Linked DNA regions of Homo sapiens: region 1 is linked to region 2. Evidence: fine-mapped expression QTL. A gene starts in region 2. The other region holds a variant in brackets. All regions are shown on one strand. Distances are from middle to middle. Region 1 has its middle 71 kb from the start of LINC02822. Region 2 holds the start of LINC02822 (long intergenic non-protein coding RNA 2822).

Region 1 (13,306 bases), 71 kb before region 2:
AGGAAACACATGGGGGAAACTAGAGGGTGAAAGAATAAAAGACACGAAGGAAGATCAATTAAAGAAGCAAGATAAAAATGTGCAGAGGTGTAGGTTGAGAAAGGGATATGCTATCAATTGAATATCCTTTGTGTCAGCTGTACAAGTGCCATGGATATTTCTCACAAAAATGTAATTGGAACTTTTCTTCCATTATCAGCTAGCAATTTAACAGGATATTTACTTTAAGAAGAAGGTCCCATATTTCAAATACTTTGCTCTTTTGCAACTCCAGATGAGCAAGTCATTCTAAAAGGCATTTAAGTAAACATTAATAGCTGGTGAAAGCTTTGTGGCATCTCAAAGATTTGGGCTAAAAGCTATCTTCCATCAAACAGGTCTCTTTGTTAGTTGCCATTCTTGTCAAATTAAAGGAAAGAGATGAGAAACATACATGGCTACACACTAAATTTCTCCCACCCACTTTTTCTTTTTCTTAAAGTCAACCTTTAGTTTCGTGGTGGTTATGAATTTATTGGTTTTACTTTCAATATGAAATAGACATGCATACTTCCTCTTAAAGCATTTTCTTCAAAAGAAAAAACCTTTCTGTTCAAAGTTTAAAAGCAAAAAAAGACATATAAAGATTTTTACAAGTGATTATTAATGTTTTGAAGTTAAAATATTCACATCAGCCCTTGATGAAGTTTAAACCGCAGGCAGCCTCCTAATAATATTGTGAAAGTGAGAAAGCTTATTCATATTTAGTTGGTATCAAACTCAGGGTTTCTGTAATGCATACTCCTCCTATTTTATTTTAAATTTCCTCAAGAAATATTAAAAATAGCAGATCTCAGGATAGTATCCCAAATAAGGCAAAATCCTAACTATAGCCCAAATCAAGCTGGTCCAACCCATGGCCTGTGGACCACATGTGGCCCAGGACAGTTTTGAATGTGGCCCAACCCAAATTCATAAACTTTCTTAAAACATTATGAAATTTTTTTGCAATTTTAAAAAACTCATCAGCTATTTTATGTGTGGCCCAAGACAATTATTCTTCTTCCAATGTGGCCCAGGGAAGCAAAAAGATTGGACACCCCTGCCCCAGAAGTATCCACTTTTCCATGGCACAGTCTCTGACTCTATCAAGATGCCTGGACATTCTGGAGAAAGGCATTCCAGCAGAGTTACAATGATTGACAATATAGTACAATTTCCATCAACACCCACATTGTACTTACTCATAGCAAAAACCTGGAAATAGTGAAACCTTTGAGAAGGAAGGAATTAAAATGGTTTGTGATGCTGCAACATTTACTTAGTCTAGATGTACTTTTCCCGTTTTCACCCAGTTGTTGATTACTTCAACTTTCCTAAATGATACAAATTTCTAAATCAAGGGAGGTTTTCTATCTTAAACTTGTTCATGTTCTTTTCTTTTATTTTCATCATTTGTGATTATTAATGGTATTGGTCATTTTATTAATAGATGATTTCAACAAATACATGATGTGCTTCCATGTGAACATTCCCCAGCAAACTCATGGTCATTAAAATAAACTGGCATCCTATTTTATTAATTTGGTCAGTTTGGGAATCTATGTATCAAGTTTTTGTGAAATAAGCTGAAAAAGGCATATTTCAAAATCCTATCCTTATCTTACTCTATACAGAGTATAATCCAAGGTTGTCTTCCTGACCATTTTGAGGAGCCTCCTAGGGAATAACAAAGTACCCTCCTCAAGAGACATGAATTTAGAGTTTTAGGTCCTATCATGTTGCTAGTAACAGCCAGAACCCCTCCTCCTCACAGTTAATAGAGATAAAGATTCTATAAAGCTGAAAAAGGGGCATGGAATAAAGGTCCTTTGTTATTACCATAATTATTATTAAAATTAAATATGTTATTTAAATATCGTGCCATATACTTGACTCCCTTTAGCTCCAATCCATGGATTCACTGGTACTTATGCTGCATGTAGTTAGCCCTTTTCTCCTGGGGTTGTAGTTTGTTTTCTTCACCTTCTCCTCTATGAAATTCTATTTCTTGAGGTATTCCATCTATCTGTCATAGCACCCATTGACTTTTGCCTGAGCTTCCTGTACCCACACGGGGTCGTCACTCTTCTCTCGTTTTGGATAAAACATCTCAGTGCATAGTGTAGTTTCTGGCTTCTTAGCCACAGAGGGGCAGAATGATGCAACCCAAAAGTTTAGGGCTTGTATCTTGACCAATGAGAAATGCAAGATCAGAGTTGGGAAGATCAATTTTTCTTCCTTACTTTATTTGGTGGACTAGTCTGAATGGCAGTACTTCTTTGCCTTCTGGAGAAGCTCCAGAAGCTGACAAGCCTGCTGAGAGATCTTTTCTGCCTATTCCCAGTTTGTCACAAAGCCACAGCTGGCATGGTGACATATCACATTGCTTTGCTTCGAATATTCCGTTTCACTTGTTTTTTCTTTCCTTACTTTCACCTGTCTGGGCTGGTACCTCCCAAATGTATTATCAACTTCATCTTTGTCTCTGCTTTCTAAAGGGGCCTATTAAGACACTCCTTTTAAGTCCAATTAAGACATTTCCTTTAGAAAAAAATTTTCTAAAGGAAATTTTTAATTCATTGCAGATAAGCTTAGCATTGGAATTATTAGTTTTCATTTAACTTGGGAGCTGCCACAACATTCAGTACTCAAGAGTCTGCTCATATCAACAGCAAGTACCCTATTCTCTTTCACATCTAACCTCTACATGGCCTCCCTTCAATATAACCTATTACCATTACATCTTTCTTCATCATTTGAATAATAGGCCCAGGTATAATTTTCCTGAGTGTGGCATCTCTTCTTGTGAGTGTAACAGAGTAAGAGCTCCTCATTGCAGACAAAGTTCCTTCTTCAGTAGCTTCATTTCCTGTCCTCTGACACACTTGAACCAGAGCCTAAGAGTTGTTTCTAGTCACTTTGCAGTTCAGCTCCTAAACAATCATTTGTTGGGTACAAATCATTTATTTCTGGATCATCAACATATTTTTTTCTAGCATTCAATGGGACATCTTTCACAAGATCTCTGGTTTGCACACATTGCTTTGAAGATCAATTTATTAAGAAATAAACTGTTGAAGATACAACAAACACATCTTTATTTAAAGATAAAAGGAGTAGTTGACAGAAAAATTTACAGACCTACTCTTAGTATGAAATACACGATACTTATTCAGTTTAGCAACAACATTATCATAATCAATACTTAACAAAAGTCCTACAGAAGTTAGTGATTCAGGTTGTCTGGAATGATGGGCTATTGTTTTCTAAAACCAATATCATCCTTTTAAAAGATTGCTAAAATTCTACAATCCTAGTTTCAAATTTCGAATGTCCATGCAAATAGATCTATTTTTGTGCATTTTGGTTCCATTAGTGGAAAATAAACTTGGCTTTTCTTTGTATGAATATCTTCCCTGAAAATTAGAGACTCAGTATTGACTATGTCAGAATCCTCTATGTTTAAGTTACTGTCACAAGTTCTTTTTAAATTTTTTTTCTGATACATTTATCACCATTTTTTGGAAGTAGCAGTTTTAAGTATTAAAATGTCTCTAAAGTGACATAACTGTATTAATCCCAAATTTGTTAGACTTGTGGCAAAAGTCTACGTGAATCTCAGGTGCTATTTTATTGTACACTTAGTGTATATCTTGCATTAAATGTTTGAAAAAAATAAAGAATGAGTAAATTAAAGACTGATGTACATTCTCATAAATTACGTCCAATTATCTTGGAAAATTATGGTAGTTCTGTCTCAAAATTTATCTTAGGTCTAACATTTTTCAATATCATTATCACCCTGAGCCAAGGCACCAATATCTTTTGCTGAAATTGAAAAAATAATAGCATTCTAACTAGTCTCTGTGCATTTGTTGTAACTCCACTATAGTCCAGTCTCAATACTGTAACCAGCATGATCCTTTGTTCAAAGTGGATCATATCACTCTTGCTCAAAATCCCCCAGTGGTTTCTTTCTATCTCACTTACAGTATAAGTCAGCATCCTTGAAACAGTCTAGAAGGCTATATGTGATCTGTCCCACATCACTTGATATCTTCATCTTTTACCATCCTCCCTCTCCACATACATACACCACAACTCATTCTATTTTTACCTTGATAGTCTGTTTACTGTTACTTGAATTTGTCAACCCTATTCTTATTAAAGGGTTTTAGGCTTGCTGTTTTTTCCCCTTACCTGGAATACCTGTGCTTTAGATAACCATATGACCTCCAGTCTCCCTTCCTTCAAGTCTCCACTCAAATGTCTTCTTAGCCACTCTGTATAAAATATAAAACCATCAACATCTAGTCTCTTCCCTGCTTTATTTTTCTTTATAACACTTGTCAAGACATGACTTGTGTGTGTGCATGTTGGTTGTTTTTCTTTTTTATGCTCAAGTTTAATTTTCCAAAGACTATAAAACATTACTCTCAGACAAATGTAAAAAGGATACATGTTAAAATGTTAATTCTATTCCTTGATTAGTAAGACGACCAAGATAATGTTAAAACTTGCATAAAAGCATTGGGTAGAAATAGGCACTTTAATAAAGAAATATCACAATAAGAAGTTGGGTTATACAGGATTATTAATGTATGGCAGAAAAATAAAATGTAACCTTTGGCACTATCTAGTTCATTGGATGGAAATCATTTACGTCTTTATTGGACAAAAGTTTATGAGTTAACCTCTGCCCAACAGAGTTGTAAAATAGCCTTATTGACAGTAAGTCAAGCCCAAAACTGCACTGAAAGGAAACTCACTAATCTCTTTGCCTATTTCCAAGTTGTAAATAATTTTTCTCACTTCTAACATCTGGGAATTTGCTTTTTCACTTCTATATCCCCACATCTTTCAACAACAATGAGCAGTTAGTATGCTTTTGTCTTAGTTTATCTCCCAGAAATAGACTTGAAGCAAGAATTTGATTTCCTAAAGTTTGAGAGGTCATCCAGAAAAACTAGTAGGGAAGTGAGGAAATGAGATAGGGAAGAGAAGGAAGCCCAAATGAGTGAAACAATAGGCAGGTTATCAATCCAGAAGATGGGAGTTTAGTTCCCTGGAGCAATGTGAGAGTCAGCGCAGAAAATAGCTCTGAATTATTCCAGCTAGAGAATGAAGGACCTATGGTGTTTATTTACCAAATCTTTGACTATAATCCACTGAGGCCTGCTCCTAGAAATGTTACCTTTATTTTATGTCTAGTTTTCCCTGAGTGAAGGCTGATATGTTTCTCAGGCAAAACTAAACACAAAACAGCAAAAACAAACAAACAAACAAAAAACAAAAACCTTCCATCAGAGGGTTCAGGTATTTTCACTAAGCAGCTTTCGGCAGTTGGGTCCCAAGGGGAAATGGGTGGGGCATTGACAATATCTGATATGGTGTTCCATATAGAAAAAGTACAATTGAAGGAATAAATGAATGAAATGTTTCTAAGGATTTTGTAATTGGGACACCACAGGAAGTGATATGAAGATCTTGGAAACCTATCAGCTTTCTTGCCTAGTTGACAGAGCAGAACAAAACTTTAGGGTCTGGTACCAGAGAGACTAGGTTTATGTCATTCTAGCTATATGAGCTGGGTCAGGTGACTTAACTTCTCGAAAATTCAATTTTCTAACCTCTAAAAATTGAGATAATCTTTTATGTTTTGCAATTGGGGAAGAGGACTCAAACTATTTTAGATAAAAAGCATTTTCTAAGATCATCCAACTTACTTGTTTGGTTTAACAAGAGATGCAGTGATCATAGTTTGATCATCATTGTTTTTCAATGTAAATATGCTTCTAATGAAAAACTCTCAGATCACTAAGAGTATTATGTTTCTAGTTAAAGTTATGTGCTTTATAGGTTAATTTTCAAAATGCGACTTTTGTTTTATTCATACGTTTCTATGGGTCAGTGAGACTGATGAAATTGCAATGTTGAGGATAAGAGCAGAACTTTCTTAAATGCCACCCTGTGAGGACTTTTCAGAGACAGCTGATCGCTTCTGTCTTTTGTCTTCATGCAAAGCATCGCCAATAAATTCATGTGCCCCAAAGACATGGGATATTCCCAATTTAGAAATGAATGGAAGAAGGGAATATGTAAGAATTCTGAGGAAAATATATTAAAAAATACCAGTATCTCACCTGAAATAAGAAAAGTTGGACTCAGTAATTTGGACTTTCTTGTTTTCAGTGTAAACTGGAGGAAGGAAGAAAAATAATAAAAATTCATAAGTAATTTCTAGCGGGAAAGGCAGAGCCTCTGAGGAAGGGAGGGTAAGAAGAGAAGAGAACCTAAAGTCTTAGTTTTAGATGATCTCCTCTGAGACGAATTATTCTGTGTGCAAGCGATTAATAAAATATAAAGACAATAGATATACATTTTCAAATATTCAAGAACCCATAACCTAATAAACCCTGGGACTATCCTGGATAACATGAATAAACAAAAGAAGCAAAACCAACAAACTACAAAGTAACCATAATCATGGTCTAATGGAACAATGGTGATCTTTGGATCTGTTTAAATGGAGCCCTCAGTCTAAATACAGGTAAATATTATTACAAAACTATATACTATAAATCTAGACAATTTAAAAATACTAAATAAAATTAAAACTCTGTATATGAAAAACTGAAAGAGAGGAGAAAGATAAAGACAGTAATTTTCTCATCTGGTTTAGTAGAATATAGATATTACCTAAGGTGAAAAAGTCAAGAAATATAGGTTAGTTATGCTATTTGAAGTCATCAACAAAATAAGAGAATGAAAATCCCTCTCATTAGAATGGGAAGCCATATTACC[TA/T]AAAAAAAAAAAAAAAGAAATAGAGTTTCATATATATTAAATAAAATTTTAAAGGTAACTACTATAAAATGGAATCAAAATAAATAATATGATGATCTGAATTACCATTAGAAAAATCACCCAGCTACAGGACAAAAGGAATTTTGTCTGCTGGGTTCACTCTTATCATCTCAGCTCGTAGAATATTGCCATCTGTAAATAGTAGCCACTTAAATATATAATGAGTGTATCAACAAGAAAAAAACAGGATCAATACAGTTACCAAATATGGAAATAAAATAAAGTTTTAAAATCAGAGAATATAAAATAAAATGCTGAAATTAAAAGTCAAGACACATCTCTTATAACAAGACATATAAATAGAATAAACCCACCTCCTAAAAGTAGTCTCATGTGGAGTCAAAAATCAAAACCTAAGGATATTTTGTCTCACTATGAAGATGTCTAAAACAAAAACCTTAAAAATATTACAAGTGAAAAGAAGTTCATAGCTTGAATATGGACGAGAAGGGAGGAAAATAAGAAAAATTAGAGATAACACATAGTTTGTTGTTATGATGGTTAATTGTGGTATATATATTTAGATGTGAAGATGTTTTTAAAAAGTAGGTTCAGGGAGTAAGGGAGAATTTGGATAACTTTATCCACCTTAATTTTGAGATTCTACTAGATACCTAAGCGGAGATATAAAGTAGGAATTATAAAATGTAAGTCTGGATTTCTGGAGATAAGCCAGTGATTTAAATATAAATTTGGAAATCATTAACAAATATATGACACCTTAGACATTTTGAGCTAATATAATAAGATACTATAGGTTGGAGAACTTATAAATATCACAAATCTATTTCTCACAGTTCTGGACGCTGGAAGTTCGAGATCAAGCATTCTGGAGCATGTTCTCTTCTGTGTTGCAGACTGCTGACTTCTTGTTGTGTCCTCAAATGGGAAAAAGAGGGCTAGAGAGCTCTCTGGGTTCTCTTCTATCAGGGCACAATCCCTTTCATGAGGGCTCTACCGTCATAACTCCATTGCCTGCAAAAGGCCTTACCTCCTAATACCATCACATTGGAGGTTAAGATTTCAATATATGAATTTTGGGTGAACACAAACATTCAGCCCATTGCATATGATATTCAAAGTCACGAATTAGCTAAGCTCACCCAGCAAAAGTGTGTATACAGAGATGTTCAGTATGGAGTAATTCCAGATTTAAAGCTTCAACAGAAGAGAAGGAGCCAGGAAAGGAGTTTAAGAAGGGAGAGTCCATAGAGATACATGGAAAAGCAAAAGTGTGCAATTTTCTGAATTACTCAGACCTTCATCTCTGCCACTTTACCATGTCCATTCATTTTAACATCACTAATGATGGTTAGGTTGCCAAATCTAAAGGTTTCTTCTCATTTATACTTGATATTGCAGCAACATTTAACAGGGATGACCATACTTACCTTCTGAAAACACTTTCTTCTTGTAGTATCTGGAAAACAAGATCCCCAGGGAGTGACATTTCTCTCTGAAGGAAGATCCAGAGGTTAAAGATGCTGCTCAGTTCCCTTAGAAGATAGCCTGCATCCCTATTCCTTGAGTCACTCCCAAGAAGAGAAAGTAACCCCAGAGGTGTTGAACAGATGGCTAAAGTTGTGCAGAATTGGTGATGCCTGGCATTTAATTAGAGGCGTTGATCGAGGAATTCCTGTTATAACCTCCAGGGAAGGATTCCCATTCCACAGAAGCAGCATACCCAGGATGCCAATCCACATCATGGTTCAGGGTCAATAAGAAAGATAGAACTCACACATGCACTGGATGGAACATGGCTTTACCCACATAGAGGAGACAGAACAAGATTAGCTTCAATAGTGGGTGCCAATCCTTGTGGCTCAGGGGGTTGTATTGCAGCCAATGCACACTGATTAACTACATGCACTCCTCTTGTTCTGCAAGTGAAGGAACCTATTTCCTCCCGCAGCTAAGAATGGGTTATGGTGGTAGAGTTGGCCTGGTATCACGTGAAGCAAATGCTTAAATAGAAAGACAAAGTTATTATTGGATCTGAAACAGGCAAATATATTCCCACACAAAGTTATAATCCCAGCACAGGCTTTGAGGTCTCCCTATCTCTTGGTTAGGAAGCATTCCAGGCCCAAAGCCCATTCTTATGTTGCAGAGCAGAATTGAAAGATTGCAGGCATGTGACTGCCTTTCCCGGCAAGAAAGTTGGAGATAGCACTTCTCAAACCTCTGAATCTTCTTCCCTATTATGTACCAAGGTAAGGACTTCACTCAGGAACATCCTTGAAGTGTCCTCCTAGCTCCGTGGCTTCCCCATGGATGACTAGCTGAGGATTTTGTGGCTGCTGTATTGCAGCTCAACTTCTCCCCATGCCCTCTCTTACTTCCTTCCCTTGTCTATGTGAGTTGTTCTAGAAAGCATTGCCCAATAAACCTCCCCCATGCAAACTCCACCAGAGCCCATTTCCCAGAGAATGAACCTAAGGCAGATTTGATGTGATTGGTTTTCTCATGGAAACCAGTACAAGGAAAGGGAGCCTTCTTCATTCTCATGATACTGGGCTCATTTTTATACAGAACTGATGAAATAGGATCATGTAGAAGGAGAAAAGCACAAGGAAATAATATATGGAAATATGTCTTTGTTTAGAGTCTTTTTTTTCTGAAGTCAAACTGCCTGGGTGACCATCCCAATTTTACCAACCACAGGTTGTGTGAAATTGGAAAAATTACTTTACCTCCCTCTGCCTTGGGTTTCTCATGTGGAAATTGGGAACAATGATAGTATTTTCTTCATAAGGTTGCTATGAAGATTAAATTAGTTAATACATGTAAAAGTGCTTAGCATAGCCTTACATTTAGTAAGTGCTGTGTAAGTATTGTTTCTTATATATATATATGTACATATATATGTGTGTATATATATATATATACGTATATATATATATGCACAACATGCAGGTTTGTTACATATGTATACATGTGCCATTTGGTGTGCTGCACCCATTAACTGGTCATTTACATTAGGTACATCTCGTAATGCTATCCCTCCCCTGCTCCCCCCACCCCACAACAGGCCCCGGTGTGTGATGTTCCCCTTCCTGTGTCCATGTGTTCTCATTGTTCAATTTCCACCTGTGAGTGAGAACATGTGGTGTTTGGTTTTTTGTCCTTGCTATAGTTTGCTGAGAATGATGGTTTCCAGCTTCATCCATGTCCCTAAAAAGGACATGAACTCATCATTTTTTATGGCTGCATAGTATTCCATGGTGTATATGTGCCACATTTTCTTAATCCAGTCTATCATTGTTGGACATTTGGGTTGGTTCCAAGTCTTTGCTATTGTGAGTAGTGCTACAATAAACATATGTGTGCATGTGTCTTTATAGCAGCATGATTTATATTCCTTTGGGTATATACCCAGTAATGGGATGACTGGGTCAAATGGTATTTCTAGGTCTAGATCCCTGAGGAATCACCACACTGTCTTCCACAGGAAATACAGTATTGTTTCTATAGTTGAAATCTTGAAGAGTGTTCTAGATAGTTTAGGCTCTGCAAATAAGTTCAGGCCAAATTCAGCCATCTCTGAGGAGCAGACACTACTAGTGGCAAATGTGTTATATACTATCATTATACTTATGTCATACATTTATTTAACATAAGATTTCATTTAATTGCTGACAGTCCTCTCTCTTCTTCCCTTGTTCTATTTTCTATCACATACTGCCAAATTTAAGAGAATGCATATTTGTTCTATAGCATGCAATGACTAAACAATAAAGGCAGCACTGGAAAATGTCTGTGCCTTAGCATTAGAAAAAAATAGTGTAAATCCTGGCTCTGCCATGCAACAACTGCATTACATAAGGGTGGGCAAACCACTTAACTGCCCTGGTCTTCATTTTTCTCAGCATAAAATAGATATAAATGCTTTTTCATAAGGCTGAGTCTAATACAGTGACTGACACGTATTAAGTGCTATTACTATTATTTTAGATAAGTCTTTCCACTGAGAATTCTTTCAGTCCATGACTTCAAGGAATTCTTACTCATTGGGTCTTATTTTTACCTTCTGAAAATTTTGCTAATCAAAATCATCAGCAACAGTAGATACTATTTTCATTATTAGTATAATTGCTAAAATTTATAGAGTACTTACTGTATACCAGAACCTAGTTAGAGATTTGTATGCTTTATAATACCAGACATTAAATCATTTGCATGTTTTAATTTATTTACTTTTTACAACAAAGTTATTGAATAGACCATCTCAGTTTCCCATATTGGATTAAGTAATTTTTCTAAGATTATACAGCTTATAGCATACAGATGCTTGGAAAAATACGTTGGTTGCTTACTTGTAATGTAGTTTCCTTTCATCCTGGATCCTCAGTGGATTCACAATGAAGAATGATACTGTCTTTCAGTGGCCCACACTTGATTTTCTCCCTTTGATATTTGTGGGTGGTTCTTTCTCTACAACTAATCTCAGCTTATGGCATGTCCAAAAAGCAGGATCATAGGTTTCTATCTCTCCACAAATCAAACAATCAACAGCCTGATTCTTAGACAGAATGGTGTAGAGGACAAAATAGTAGTCTAGGTTGTAGGTTCTCATTTATAGTGAGAGTGTATAAAGAGGACGCAATATCTCTGTAAGCCTCACTTTATCTCATTTGGGAAATAAAATAATTTTTATATAATCAAAGAAGTAAGTGTTCCCAGGGCTAATGTTTTATTTTGACTTTATATTTCTCCTTAAGTCCCTTAGCTTATTCTTGATCACCAAACTTCAGGAAATCCTACTTTTATTCTTTTCCTCCTACCTCTTCCCCCTCCTACCTCTTCCCCCTCCTACCTCTTCCCCCTCCTCTCCATAGAACAAATAAATTGGGGTCTACTCTATAAGTGCTTTTTATTCACAAGGAGTATGGACCCAAAATTAACATTTAACACTTACTAGCCATAGTTAATAACTTCTATTTTTATTTCTGTAGAAATATAATGGACAGATGTATATCTGCTTTAATTTTTTTTAATTTGCATAAATAACTTTTAATCTAAAATTAATATCACCTGCTAACAAGCTGTTAAATATTCTTTTAAGTTATGGGGCAAATTGTTACTAAAACAAGGGAGACAAAATTTAAGCAGAAAATTGAAGAGGATTTTTTATATTGCATTATTCCAACAGGTTTAGCAAAATTCCTTCTGTGACCTGACTTGACCTAGAATTATCAGCACTTCATTTACCACCACTGAGTTGTCTTTACTAAAATTCTCTGCCAGGAGCATGTTTCCCTTGAAGAATAATTCGTTCTTGAGGGAGTTTTTTCCTTTAATTGTACAAACTCTTTTCATCTATCTCTATTCCCATGACACATCCTACAAATGTAAATTTCATAGTGTCGTATTTTGCATCAAGTAACAAAAGCAGTATTAATGGAAATTATTAAAGAAAGTACATCTATTCAGTAAATATGAATTGAATACCTATTAAGAGCGAATCATTCTGCTGGTTACAAGTGATACAAACATGCAAAAGGCGTTATCACTGAGGAGCTCATGAACTATTAGGAGAGTTAAATACACAAAGAGGCTTGTTTTTCATTGAAACCAGATAACTCCAGAGTGACACTAGGTTCAGAGTTCTGAGAAGGATGAAGAAAGGGAGCTTGGTATAGCATAAGCAGATTGGGGCCAAGAAATTCTTCTAGAAAATTATTAATGCTAAGCTGTTGAAAACAAGAGAGAAAGAAACAAAGGTAAACATTAAGAGGGAAAGAAGGAGAGAAAAAGGACAGAGACAGTGAGGGAGAGAGAGATAGAGAGAGAGAGATCTAATATATTGCGTGAGGAGAAACTAGTTAACATAGTCCAAACAGGACTTTAGCAACATCATAGGTCATAAAATTTAAACTAACAAAAATAACTCTTGTTATCATTACTATTTGGTACTACGAAAAGAAAACAATTATGTCTTTCAGTTGATGGTTTTCAGTAACATGATTATAGTTAACCTCAACCTCAAACTCCTGGGCTCAAGGGATCCTCCTACGTCAGACTCCCAAGCTGCTAGGACTAAAGGTGCATGCCACCATGCTCAGCTATTTTTTTTTTTTAATATTTTGTAGAGATGGGGTCTTGCTATGTTTCCCAGGCTGGTCTTGAGCCCCTGGCCTCAAGTGATTCTTCCACCTTGGCTTCTCAAAGTGCTGGGATTAACTGGCATAAGCCACTGCACCCAGCATTGTTGTGACCATTAATATGATTAGGAATAATTCTATTTGTTTCTATATGTCTTGTCTGTTTTTTGCTATTGATTTTTCTGCCACTTTTTGTATTAAATACATTTTATAATCTATTTTATCTCCTTTGATGTCTTTTTCTTTGAGATGGAGTTTCGCTCTTGTTGCCCAGGCTGGAGTGCAATGGCATGATCTCGGCTCACTGCAACCTCTA
Region 2 (13,306 bases):
CATGAGACTTATTCACTATCATGAGAACAGCATGGAAAAAAACAGACTCATGATTCAATTACCTCTCACTGGGTCCCTCCCACAACACGTGGAGATTATGGGAGCTACAATTCAAGATGAGATTTGTGTGGGGACACAGACAAACTATATCAGGCAGCAAAACTTATCATATTCTGACTGACACACCCTTTCTACAAATGATGAGATATCTGAGAGAAGGCCCACATTATTTCTTCCATTATTACCTTATCCCCTTCAACCTAAGCATCCCAAAACTGGTATGTAGTGAGTGTTCAGTAAGTGATAATTGATTCCAATAATGCAATGAATTTTTTGTCAGTCAGTATGCACAACAAGAAAGAGAATCAATCTTGCCTAATCCCCAAAGGCTTAAAATGTAGTTGAAGAGCTAGCACATCCAAAATACATTTTCTACTTGGCAAGTTGGTGTTGCTATTTACATTCAGACAAAACACAGGTCAGTCTATATTGAGCCGGTCAAGAAAAATTTCTTACTTGAGCTGAAACTGGAAACAAAAGGGACAGAGATGATCTGGGAGGAAGAAGGACGACAGCATTCATGTAAGAAGAAACTCATAAGCAAGGATGCAGAAGCATAAATATTAGGAAAAAAGAGTGTATTGTTTCCATAATAAAACAAAAACCAGAAAAGAAATTGCATGTGGTAAAGAAAAATAACAGTAAAGCAAAAAAAGAAAAACCAATTAACTCCATGTTGCTAATTTATTTGTGACTTTTCAGATTCATATGAGCTGTGCAATGATAACACGTGGATTCCCTGACAAGTTTTGCTTTTCAATAATTTTTCTGCAATTATACAAACATGGGTTTTATTCTGACAATTTAAGCTTTGATATATTTTGATTTATTGACTATCAGAGATAAATATTGGAGACAAATCAGTAATGAGCACAATATTTCAATTTTTAACAATTTAGTTAATTACCTGTGATTTTACTACCACATACTGCATCTACTCCATCTTGGTACCAACTAAAAAAATATTATGTAAGAATGACTTCTGTCACACTAGTTCTGTTTATACTTAACCATTCTGAACCCTATCACTGTGTTCTCAACTTGCACCTGACTGACCCATACCTGTGTTCCTCTAGCTCTGCCTTGGATCTTTGTTTTCAGGCTCTCAGATTTTATAATGTTATAAATCCCCTGTCACTAATCTTTAGTTCTCCTCTCACGTGTATGTGTGTGTGAGAGAGTGTATACATGTTGGAAAATTATACTACTTTCACTCGTTTCATTTTGTTGGTATATCTCACTCTGACGCATTTCTACAGTCTGGGTCACTACCTTTGCATGGCTTATGCAGAAGTAGGATCAGGACACTATAAGCATCAGGAAACTATAAGCATCACACCATGCATTCATGTTCATGTAGTTCTTAAATACAATGTAAAATAGTATAGAGAAGTGACCTTGGGCTTGAATTCTGGAGTCAGCGCCCGCCTAGGCTTGATAACTACTTTGCTACTTGCTAACTATGCATCCTTGAATCCTTGTGCATCCAAGCTAGTTATCATCTTTATGTTTCTATTTCCTCTTCAGTAAGAAATGTTTAATAATATTACTAACCTCATAGGATTGTTGTGGGGCTAACTGAAAAATTTAGCATAAAGTGCCTATTAGAGGAGTCTGGCACTTCCATATATTTACGATTCTTGATTAATTTGATCAAAGTTGCCAGTCTTGATCATATTCTTATAAAACAAAGACAAGTTCATTTGTAGGTCTGAAATAATTCATCTCAGAAAAACAATTATAGAGGTTCCACTCCGAGCAATATATCCTCGTCAATGAATCATGCTACTATATTTAACTCTTAGCCTACCAGCTCTTGACAGAAAGTTTCTTGTTTTGGAAATTGGAACTTTATAAATCTAGGGAATCTTTCCAAAATCTTTGTCTTTTTAGGGGATCTCACATAAGAAAAATCCAAAATCCCCATGCAGAAGAAGGTATGAGAACAGTTCTAGAAAGTTTATTGTTTAGCTATTTAGCTTTGCTTTCCAAAAATTTTCTTCTTTCACACATACACACTCATTCTGAAATTGTCCTTCATTGATCTCTTATTATGTGCTAATCTTCCAAATTATAAAATAATACTCAGAATTATCACAATTACATGTGTTCCTGGTGGTTCACATGATTATAATAATCATTTCATCATGCCACTAAAATATTAATAATCCAATGATTATAATCATCTTTCATTACTAATCACTTCATAGTCTACCACCTAACACCACATAATGTAACACAGAAAATGACAAAGATTGCTCTGGATTTCTTTTCCTTCCAGAAGGTTATTTCAGTGGTTTAAAAGGAAAACATATGTATGCTAACTGCACTGAAGCTAACTGTTCAAGTTCTCCTAGGGAGTTAATTTTTTATGTGACAATATGCCTATTATTAGTTCTTATATATTAGCCTTTAGTAAATAGTACTTATTCTGTCTGCATATCTTGACAATGATTTCTTCCCACATTTGCAGCCACCCACTGAGACAATCATTGCCACTATTCAAACACACAACAAACTAAGGTTTTATTACTTTAATTTTCCAAACAAATTATACTGTGCTAAATTACAACACATGGAAATAATTCTTAAAAGACAAAGAAAACAGCAGATTTTGCATTTTTATTAAATGAACTATCTGTAATTTCAAATTATGGCTTATATTGAGTATTGTCCAAACGTGCATACACATGTGTGACTCACTTTCAGCAAGCATCGAAGTTTTCTGAACCCTGATGAAATTAAATAAACTCTCTAAATTGTCCTCATCCTGGTGTTTTATACTCAATAAATTTGGACTCTAAGCAATAACTGATAATCACAAGGAATTTGCACTCTCCACTAGTGTACTTATGTTTGGCAATTTAAGCTTTATATATACTTACATATATGTCAGTAAAATTTGTAACTCCAAACTATAGAATGCACCTTCTATGTTTATTTTAGCACTGCAAAATAGCCTTACAAACATGAAAAAAATCTGTCATAGAGAATATTTTGTTACTTGAATTGTCACAGAACAACATTAGGTTAAGAGCTTAAATGTGCTCTAAAAGTTAACAGTGGGAGATTATACTAATATCAAAGAGCTCAAAGCAGGAAATGTCCTTTAACAGTTTCTGCATTTCTCCATGATATTCACGAGAACAGCTATGGTCCAGGAAAAGATGGCAAAGTACGCTGTCAAATTTTAGTTTAAAGAAATTATAAAGGCTGGGCACAGTGGCTTGCACCTGTAATCCCAGCACTTTGGGAGGCTGAGGCGGGTGGATCACCTGAGCTCAGGAGTTCGAGACCAGCCTGACCGGTATGGTGAAACCCCATCTCTACTAAAAATACAAAAAATTAGCTGGATGTGGTGGCGTGTACCTGTAGTCCCAGCTACTCGGGAGGCTGAGACAGGAGAATTGCTCGAACCTGGGAGGCAGAGGTTGCAGTGAGCTGAGATCACTACACTCCAGCTTGGGTGACAGAGCGAGACTCTGTCTCAAAAAAATAAAAAATAAAAAATAAAAGATTTTGTCAAGCATTATCATTTCCAGTCCCACTAATTTTCACAGTGTTTTAAGAAAGAAGCTCAGCTTTGGAAACAAAACAGTGGGAGCTTTTTAGGATACCAATTCAAATGCCACCCAGCTGAGTAATGATCTGGTTGTCCTTACTAAAGTTATTATTTCATGGTTGCTCAGTGAATAATGTCATTTAAAATGACCACATCTTTTAGTTCACTCCTATATGGACAAATGCCACCATTCAAACATCATCACCATGTTACCAGTTATTTCTGAGAAGCTATTGAACACTTCAATGCTTTATTCATGTTTAATAAAAGATAGAAAGACAGAGGGAATGGTTCAATGCTGTTGTTTGCCCTGTGAAAGCAATTGATTACTGCTAATTTTCCTGCCCCGGTGGTGTCCATTCAGTGGCCAATTTCACAAAATTTAGAGCAGCTGGTCTCAATTTTTGCTGTGCATGGAACTACCTAGGGAGCTTTTAAAATTATATAATACTGAGCTTTAACCCAAAGCTACTGAATAAGAATCTCCAAGAGTTATTGTCATGAAGTTACATTTAAACATACTCTCTAAATAATTTTATTGCAGCTGCACATGGACTGGCCTTTGGGATCCATTGACTTAAAGGATTCATTTTGAAATCAGCCTCAAACTGTATCTTTGATGCTTTCTAGCTGAATAATCTTCAAGTCCCAATGTTTTTTGAACTTCTTTATCAATAAAATGGAGATAGTATCCTTTTTTAATTGTTGTAAGGACTACATGAGAAACACAAGAAATCTGTCTAAACAGTTTATAGCATAGATTGTGGCAGAAATGGCTATGTGTTCACCAAAATTCATTTCCTTTTATTTATAGGGATACAGATAGATTACATTTTCTAGCCCACCTTTTGGTTAGTTGCGTTCATGTGATTAAGTTCAAGCCAGTGGAATGCAACAGAAGGAATGTGAACCACTTCTAGGTTGGGACCATAACGACCTCCACATGAAACTGTATGATCGTTTCCCAATCTGGCTGGTTGCAGGAGGTAGCCTACAGAGTCACCTCGAGATTCAGATATTGAACATGGGAATTTCACAAGATGAAACAAACGATCGTGGGGAAAGCCAACCACCAATAACCTTCATTTGTGTTAAACATCTATAAATTGGAGTTTATTACAGCAGTTAGTACCCCATGTTTTCTGTTGAATTCTTTTAATTTTCTTTTGAAATGACAGTAACATTTGAAAGACCGTTTGTCTTCATTTATCTGTCCATTACGATATGTCTGATTTATCAGTTGTGGAGATTGCCAGGAATTCCAATGCTCACAACAAACAATGAGCACCTTGCAGATTCCTGAGGCAATAATAATGATCCAGTGTGTCAGGGTTCTCCCCTTAAAGGAGATCACCAGTCACCAGGCACATGATCCCAGGGCATCTGCCTTTCAAAATTAAAAAAAGCAAGACAAATTTACACATAGTGGAATATTATTAGGCAATTTATTGGAATTCAAGACACTACAAGACACTACAGGTACTCACCATACACTATGTCATTTATGTAAAAAACTATTTATGAGAAGTTGCTCCTGAGGCCACAGTGAAAATACTTCTCTCTTCATTGCTGTTTTGGATTTTATTTCTCTCCTCCTCTACCTACTATTATACGCAGCTCTTACTTTCATATCAACTCTAACATTCTGATATTACATGGGGCTGATCCAGGAGGACGACACTTTGGGAAGGACAGGAATGATGTGAAAGAGAAGGTACAGGGAAAAATAACATAAATATTAAAAAATAATTTCGAGGCCTCCTCTCTCATCTCTAAGGTCTCCGGGTAGCATGTTCAATGCCCTATACTGTTTTCCTCAGTTCACTCACATAGCTTCAACATTATCTTACCTCCTACTTTCCTTCAGGCTCAGGTCATTTGATGTAATTCCATAGAGAGACACAATCTCTGGTTTTCACCATTTTGTCAGGGGTAATTAAATATTAAGTTATTTTATACTCAAAGGCCCATTTTAGCAAACCTCTATGATTTGTTTTTTCCTATAGGATCTAAGTTGGAGGTCACAGATATAGTTCATCTCACTTGCTAACTAATAAATCATTAGTGACTCTTTGGAGTGCTATGTTTAGAAAGGTTTAAGACCAATGTGTTGTCTCAGCAAGAAAGAGCCTCATCAATTAGCAGTGTCTTTTGCAGTTGCAGAAAGAGAAGCAATGCATTCATGCCAGAAGTTTGTCTACTGAGGTGTGACACCAAAAATAATAAAAGGATATTAAGAATTATTACTACAAAAATAAAATACAAGTGAGCAATTATTTTTGTCTTTAGGAATGGTAAGGTGTAGGCACGCCTTCACAGAATTAAGAAAGAATCATGCTTCAGATATCCTTTTGAGATCCAAGCAAATTAAAAACCAAAGAAGTCACTTTGGGAGGCCAAGGCGGGCAGATCACAAGGTCAGGAGATCGAGACCATCCTGGCTAACACGGTGAAACTCTGTCTCTACCAAAAATACAAAAAAAAAAAAAAAAAAATTAGCTGGGCGTGGTGGCGGGCGCTTGTCGTCCCAGCTACTCCAGAGGCTGAGGCAAGAGAACGGCGTGAACCCGGGAGGCGGAGCTTGCAGTGATCCTGGGCTACAGAGGCTCTGTCTCAAAAAAAAAAAAGAAAAAAAGAAGAAGAAGAAAAGAAAAAACCAAAGAAGTACAAAGCAGTATTATGATTATGGTGATATATTTTAAATGCCTAAGTTGAACAATTAAAGGTCGATAAATGATATATTTCAATCTTTTCAATATTGTATTTCCATGACTATGTGCAAAAACTTATTTGACGATGAAAGTAGAAGTCAAAATTTGTGACCCTTTATTCATGGAGGCTTGGCCCAATTGGCTCCCTGAATTCCACCACAAAAATGGGCCATGTAATCAGTGTGATGTGTTTCCTTCAGTGGAAGAGAGAATGGGAAATACTTGTGAGAAGGAGGGATGAAAGAGTGAAAGTGGGACCATCAGGTCAATGCCTAAAGCAAGGGAGGTGACTGGAAAATGAATTCAAGGTGGAGGCACATGGTATCTGGGATCCCTGAGCCCCCAAATTCCTTAGACCTTTCCTCCTGGTCTCCCTCCCCGGTGTTTAATATTCCTTGGGTTCTATTTGATCAAGGATTTAGCCACCTCAGCTGCTAACGTTCAAGTTACCTGCTGAATCCTTGACCGCAAATGCCATCAACCAGTACCAGCATTTTGTATCTGGAAATATCCTACTTCTTGTGCTTGACAGAGACAGAGGATGTGGCACAGAAGCCCCTGACCCATTGCTTCAGGAATGTCAACTCAAATGGTATTGTAGAGTGTTTTTCTGGTAGTCCTTCATACTTTGAACATAGTTCTAACCCTTGGACTCATGATTAATGTAATAGAATTTCTGGGCTGAATGGATAATAGCCACTGTATATAACATTGTGGTAAAATATCTGTCAATTTGCAAATAATTGACTTCCAAAAAAAATTTGCGTTGCACCAATTTGTAGCTCATCTCTTTGCTTTCTTTTTTCAGTTATGTAATGGAATTGAATGAAGCAAGTGTCAGATCTACATCTCTACAAACACTCACTTTATCAGTTCAGAGAATAAAGAGATGAATTTAATAATGCCACTGGACACTTATACTCTATCGGATCCTAATAATTTCTCACACTAATGAATTCTTCTATCAACTTCATGTTAATCAAGAGGAGACAGAGCCAAGAAGTGAGTAATTGCTTACTGAATTGTGAAAGCTGGGATGATTTAACTACAGGTAAGTACCACAAAGAGAATGTTTATAACAACCTTTTGTGTTTCATGTACTCAAATATCTTTTTGATGAAAGGGTGACAGCAAAAGGAGCTATTTTTGAGACATACTCTATAATTAGAGTGAGCTAAACATGTCATTTGACTTTATTGTGATTTTTCTTATGATTTGGGAACTTAGAAAATAAAATGCTGTGTACAATATGAAATCATTTCTGTAAAATTTAAAGCACACACTTGTCCATGGTACTGACATATGTTGTAAGAGTGTAAAATCATGCACAAAAAATGCATGCTGTATCAGACTATGCCTATGTCTGGGGAGACAAAAGAATGACATGATGGGCAAGACTTTTGCTGTCAGCTGTATTTACTTTTTTAAAGACGAGATGCAAATGTGGTAAAATACTAGCATATGTTAAACCTATTATATCTTTTATGTTTTATATACTAAAATATTTTAATAGATATTTAAAATATATTTTTAAAAAATGTTTATAAGATTACAATGTCAGAAGAAAGTTTGCTTAACTGTTTTCATACTTTTAGGCAGTAATTATTACATGTGAACTCGATTACCCAGTTGTTTAGTTAAAAAAAAATGCTACTAGCCTTTTAGAGTTAATTGTGAGTTGTATAATCTAATTTTGACACTGTCAAAGTTTTGACTCCACTTCATCTCCTTAATAAGGTGCCATTTGTTACCTAATATAAAATTCATACATTTTAAATATGAATTTTAACAATTTTCTTAGTATTTAAATTTAGAAATAAGTGATCTCACTGTGAAATATACATATTAGAGAACTTCATGCTACCTTATATTAAGTAAGATTAGAATTGACGGAGATGAAAGTGAATTGTCATAATTGTATCACTGCCTCATTTAGACTTGCTCATATTTTATATTTTATAAAATTATTCTGATTATTTGGAAAGAAAACTGGTGAATGCATGGAATGGATAGAGGAAAAATTTTTCTCTTTCTTTTTTTGAGAATAGATTTTAGTTAGCGTAGAAAATTTTCATACACTAAAGTATGAAGAAACACATTAAAATTTGGTACCTGAATTTCTGAGGACAAGGACTAAGATAGAAAATAAAATAAAATAATATTAGAATTTTCATTTATATTAATGATGATCACAGAGGGCCTCTAGCCTCCCAATTAGCCAACAACTCTCTAGGATTTTTTTTTTTAAGTTCAGAGTTAAACATAACACTGTATCTTGAAGTCTACTAAAATAGTGCTTTATTTTTTCACTTAAAATTTTAGGCTAGATGTTATAAAGCACATTCAAATGCAGTCCTTAAGCTTCCTACTGTTCACAGAACTTAAATGAAGGTTGTTTTTAGAATTCCACTTATTTACTACTTTGCTATAAGCAACTGATCAACATCAACACAGATTTAATAAGAACCTTAATTTCACATAAGACTGTATACGATGAAACAGAAGGAAAACAATTAGAGCAATTATCATTGCCTACATCATCCTGATTATCATTATTATAATGATTGACATTTACACTCTTCACAGATTACAAAGTGCTTTCATCTTCAATGCTTCTCTGTACCTCACGATCACCTGGTAAATAGGTATAACACATATTATCTGTTCCCACTCGAGCTGGAAAAGCTGGCAAATACATCATTGTCTCTATGTTTCCTGGCATTGTAAGAGACAAATGAAAAAGAGGGATATATTATGGGAGGGAGGAAAGAAGTTAAGAAGATGTGCTACTGGCTGAACAATGGGACTATGTCTATTTTAAGATGATTCTCCACAGGTTTCTAACATATAGTTAATAATAGTTTCAATAAACATACATGGGAAAATATACACCTTGTACTTATTATGAAAACACTTATATTTATATAATAGGGGAGGCAATGTTATGATAATAAATTTGCATGTATCCCTCACCAATCTTGTTCTATTTCCCCACACACACTCCACATAACACAAACTGGATAATTTTGAAGCAAATCTTAGATATCATATTATTTCATTCAGGAAAATGCAAATACACATTATAAAGGAAGCTAACTCCATTTGAATTGAATGTGAATTTAAACAGAAGAAGTAATTATTTGATTCAATTACTCAAAATTAATATTTTTATTTGGAAATTATTCATTTTCAAACTCCTGGATGAATTTGGCCGACTCTTGCATGAGGAATACATTCTACCTGAAATGTGATAATCTCATAAAATATCATAAACTCTCCCTGAGGCTAACTATAAATCTTATATATATATATATACGTATATATATACACATATATACATATATATGCACATATATACATATATTCACACATATATACACATATATACATATATACACACGTATATATATACACACATATATACACGTATATATATGCATATATATATACATACACACATATATACACGTATATATATGCATATATATATACATACACACATACATATATATATATATTTTTTTTTTGAGACAAGGTCTTGCTCTGTCACCAGGCTGGAGTGCAGTGGCACCATCTCAGCTCACTGCCACCTCCACTTCCCAGGTTCAAGCGATTCTCCCACCTCAGCCTCCCAAATGACTGGGAGTATAGGCATGTGCCACCATGCCCAGCTAATTTTTATATTTTTAGTAGAGACGAGGTTTCACCATGTTGACCAGGATGGTCTCGATCTCTTGACCTTGTGACCTGCCCACCTCAGCCTCCCAAAGTGCTGGGATTACAGGCGTGAGCCACCACGCCTCTTGTATCTTTTTATTTGTCTAAAATCTAGCTTTGGGGGAAAAAGGGTTTAAATGTCCCTTTGATAACTGACAATATGGATAAATTGATATAAACATGATAAAATAATATTAGAGTTTTCATTTATATTAATGATGATCATTCACAGAGGGCATCTAGCCTCCCAATTAGCCAACAACACTCTGGGATTATTTTTTTAAAGTTCAGAGTTAAAATAAACATAACACTGTATCTTGAATAATATTTGATAGATGACCACAGTAAACAGTCATTATACTGTTTTAATGAAAAGAACTACTGTTAGCCAAGACAGCTAGCTTTTAATACTGCCTGCCAGAACTAGCTTTGTGATCTTGGGCCAGTCAGGTAACTTTTTGGATCTTTTATTCTCGTTAATAAAATTGATTATGTTCTATATTACTTCTAAAATGAATAGATATCATAGTATCCAGCTCTCAGTTGTGTTATTATATCTCAAAAATACTTTGTTTCTTACTTCCATTATATATATATACATATATATTCATTATTTTCAGACCAGGCTTCTTTCTTCAGCAGTAACTCTTATTTCATTCAAATAAGCTCTATTCCCTATGCAAGGTAGTTCTGCCAAATCTAGAAAAGGCACAACGATGAACTGAAAGTTGGCAGTAATTAGAGAGGCAAACAAATTTTCAGGAACATAACTTGAATGGCAAAAGCAAAACAATTTTATATCTATCAGGCCTGTAGAATTACATAATCTTAGCTTCCTTAAAATGTAGGATGCAAATTGGCCCTTACTAACTTATTTACTAATAACAAATTGTAAGCATCTATGGCATTTTACTTATTTTTGAAGTTGATAAGTCAGCTTCTTTGTAGTAGACATTTTCTAATTATTCCTTGTTATTGGCCAAAAAAGTTGCCCTGAATGTATCAGGCCATCCCTTAAAACATCAGAAATGGTACTTTAGTTATTGAGAAATACATATTTGATTATAACCATTGGTAATTGACACATACATACACACATATATATTTTATATGTATATATACACACACTATATATACACACACATATAATAGTTAAACATTTAAAATACATTTTCTCACTGCTGTAATATAATGTGAAATATACATGTTAAAAATATAGAGAGATTATTTTTTAGAATTGTTTCAGAGGTTGTTTTTAGAACATACACATATTTAAGAATCTGTTCAGTATACTAAAAAGAAGGAGAAGCAAACTGCAGCATTGTCTGCAAGTTAATTTTAAGAAAGAAGCTCACAAAAACTGTTACACACTTTCCTTGTTAATATAAGCAGTAATGCTTCCTGAGGGTCCTTGAGCGTGTGTTTATCAAATATTTATTTAACACATAACAAAACATAAAAAGAAATTTGAAAATGCTTTTATTGCCCTGTATAAGATTAGTTTTCACTCATATGAATTTTACTTGATCTAGCAATTAGTTCTTGCCAAAATCATTAGGCCTTGACATATTTTTCTGTATGGCTAAGAGTATTGCTACCAAATTTTGTTTCCTAAGAGTTAAGGATAGAGAATTTAAAGATTAGTGAAGCCAGGATTGCTACAAATTCTTTATGCACCTATAACTAAAAACCTCAGAGATGAAATGTTTCTTCTTGGACTACCAAACAGACAGATGCATACATATACTCATAGGCGCATGCACACACACACACACACACACACACACACGCACACACACACACTTTTCCCACTGTAATTCAAGGCATAATTGGAACAAGTTGTTGCCTTTGAAAATAAAAAATAAAAAGTACTTTGAAAAAACATTCTTCTTAGACTTCACCTTGTTTCTACCATCCAGATACAATACATAATAAAATAAAGAATGACTAGGAAATTTTGAGAGACTTGAGGGTGTCTCATAATAGTTAATATGAGTAAATATAGTATTAACTTTAGTCTTTAAGAACTGTAAGACATGACTTTAACATCTTACTATTCAAGATGGGTCTATTGAACTTCTGTGGTAAAAGGTTTAAGAGACCTTAAACCTGTTAAGGCTCTTAAGCTTAAAGGTAAAGACTTTAAGAGACTTTTGCATTCATATCTGTTTTATCAGTCAGCCGTCTTAATCAATTGCATCTTTGGTATAACTTACTGGATAATTTTTAAAAAATTATTTTAGCTATATGTGTATAAAATTGCTGTATACAAAATATACCTTTAGACTTAATTTTTCTATAAGAGGCAAAAGCGAGGATATATTATAATAAAATTACATACCTTTTTAAAGAAAAGTGTGATGTTGGCTTTTATTTATGAGATTTTTTAAAAAAAACCTTTATGCTTATTATTTCCTCTTCAATTATTTAAGGTTAAATTGCATTTTAGAACTCAAATTTGAAACTTCTCCCTGAGTTTCAACCCAATTTTCGGGCAATGAGAACATATTAAGGCTCTCAGTGTGCTACAATAATATTTAATCATATTATAATTATAATAACTTAAGGGATACATCAAAATGTCTCTTTGGAAAAGGTATAGTAGGTTGTGGTAAATAATGATATTTTTTGTAACATACGTGGGAATTTCTTTCTTTCTTTCTTTCTTTCTTTCTTTCTTTCTTTCTTTCTTTCTTTCTTTCTCTCTCTCTCTCTCTTTCTTTTCTTCCTTCCTTCCTTCCTTCCTTCAGCACAAGTGTATAGAACATAAAAATATTTAAATAATCTTTTTATGGGAATGCAAAGAAAGTGGTAGAGGGCAGAGTTGAGGTATCTAGTTCATAAGCTGAACTTGCAACACTTGCCTGGAAGTCTCCCTTACCAAAGATACAACGTTATTTAAAAATCTATTGATTACAGAGCTTAGTAAATTAAAAAAGTCTACGTATTAGTCCGTTCTCACACTGCTATAAAGAACTAACTGTGGCTGGGGAATTTATGAAGAAAAGAGGTTTAATTAACTTACAGTTCCACAGGCTGTACAGGAAGCATGGCTGGGAGACCTTCAGAAACTTAAAATTATGGCAGAAGGTGAGGGGGAAGCAAGCACGTCTTCACATGGCTGTCAGGAGCAGTTGGAGGGAGGTGCTACACACTTTTAAACAAGTAGATCTCCAGATAACTCTATCACAAGAACAGCAATGGGGAGCTCTGCCCCCACGATTCAATCACTTCTCACCAGGCCCCTCCTTCAATA

Evidence for each region. PIP is the estimated chance that this variant, and not a neighbour inherited with it, causes the effect. A credible set is the group of variants that fine-mapping cannot tell apart.
Region 1: its variant is the best candidate, but not a certain one, in a credible set for the expression of LINC02822 in prefrontal cortex (CommonMind, PIP 0.89).

The regions. Positions count from the first base shown.
Region 1 is chr12:90,515,488-90,528,793 of GRCh38, forward strand. No RefSeq gene overlaps it. Among named protein-coding and RNA genes, the nearest start is that of LINC02822, 71 kb to the right of the region's middle. The variant TA/T (reference allele first, on the strand shown) is at 6,826.
Region 2 is chr12:90,586,428-90,599,733 of GRCh38, forward strand. LINC02822 (long intergenic non-protein coding RNA 2822) reads left to right here and starts at 7,140. Exons shown (of 4, transcript XR_429171.5): 1 at 7,140-7,384.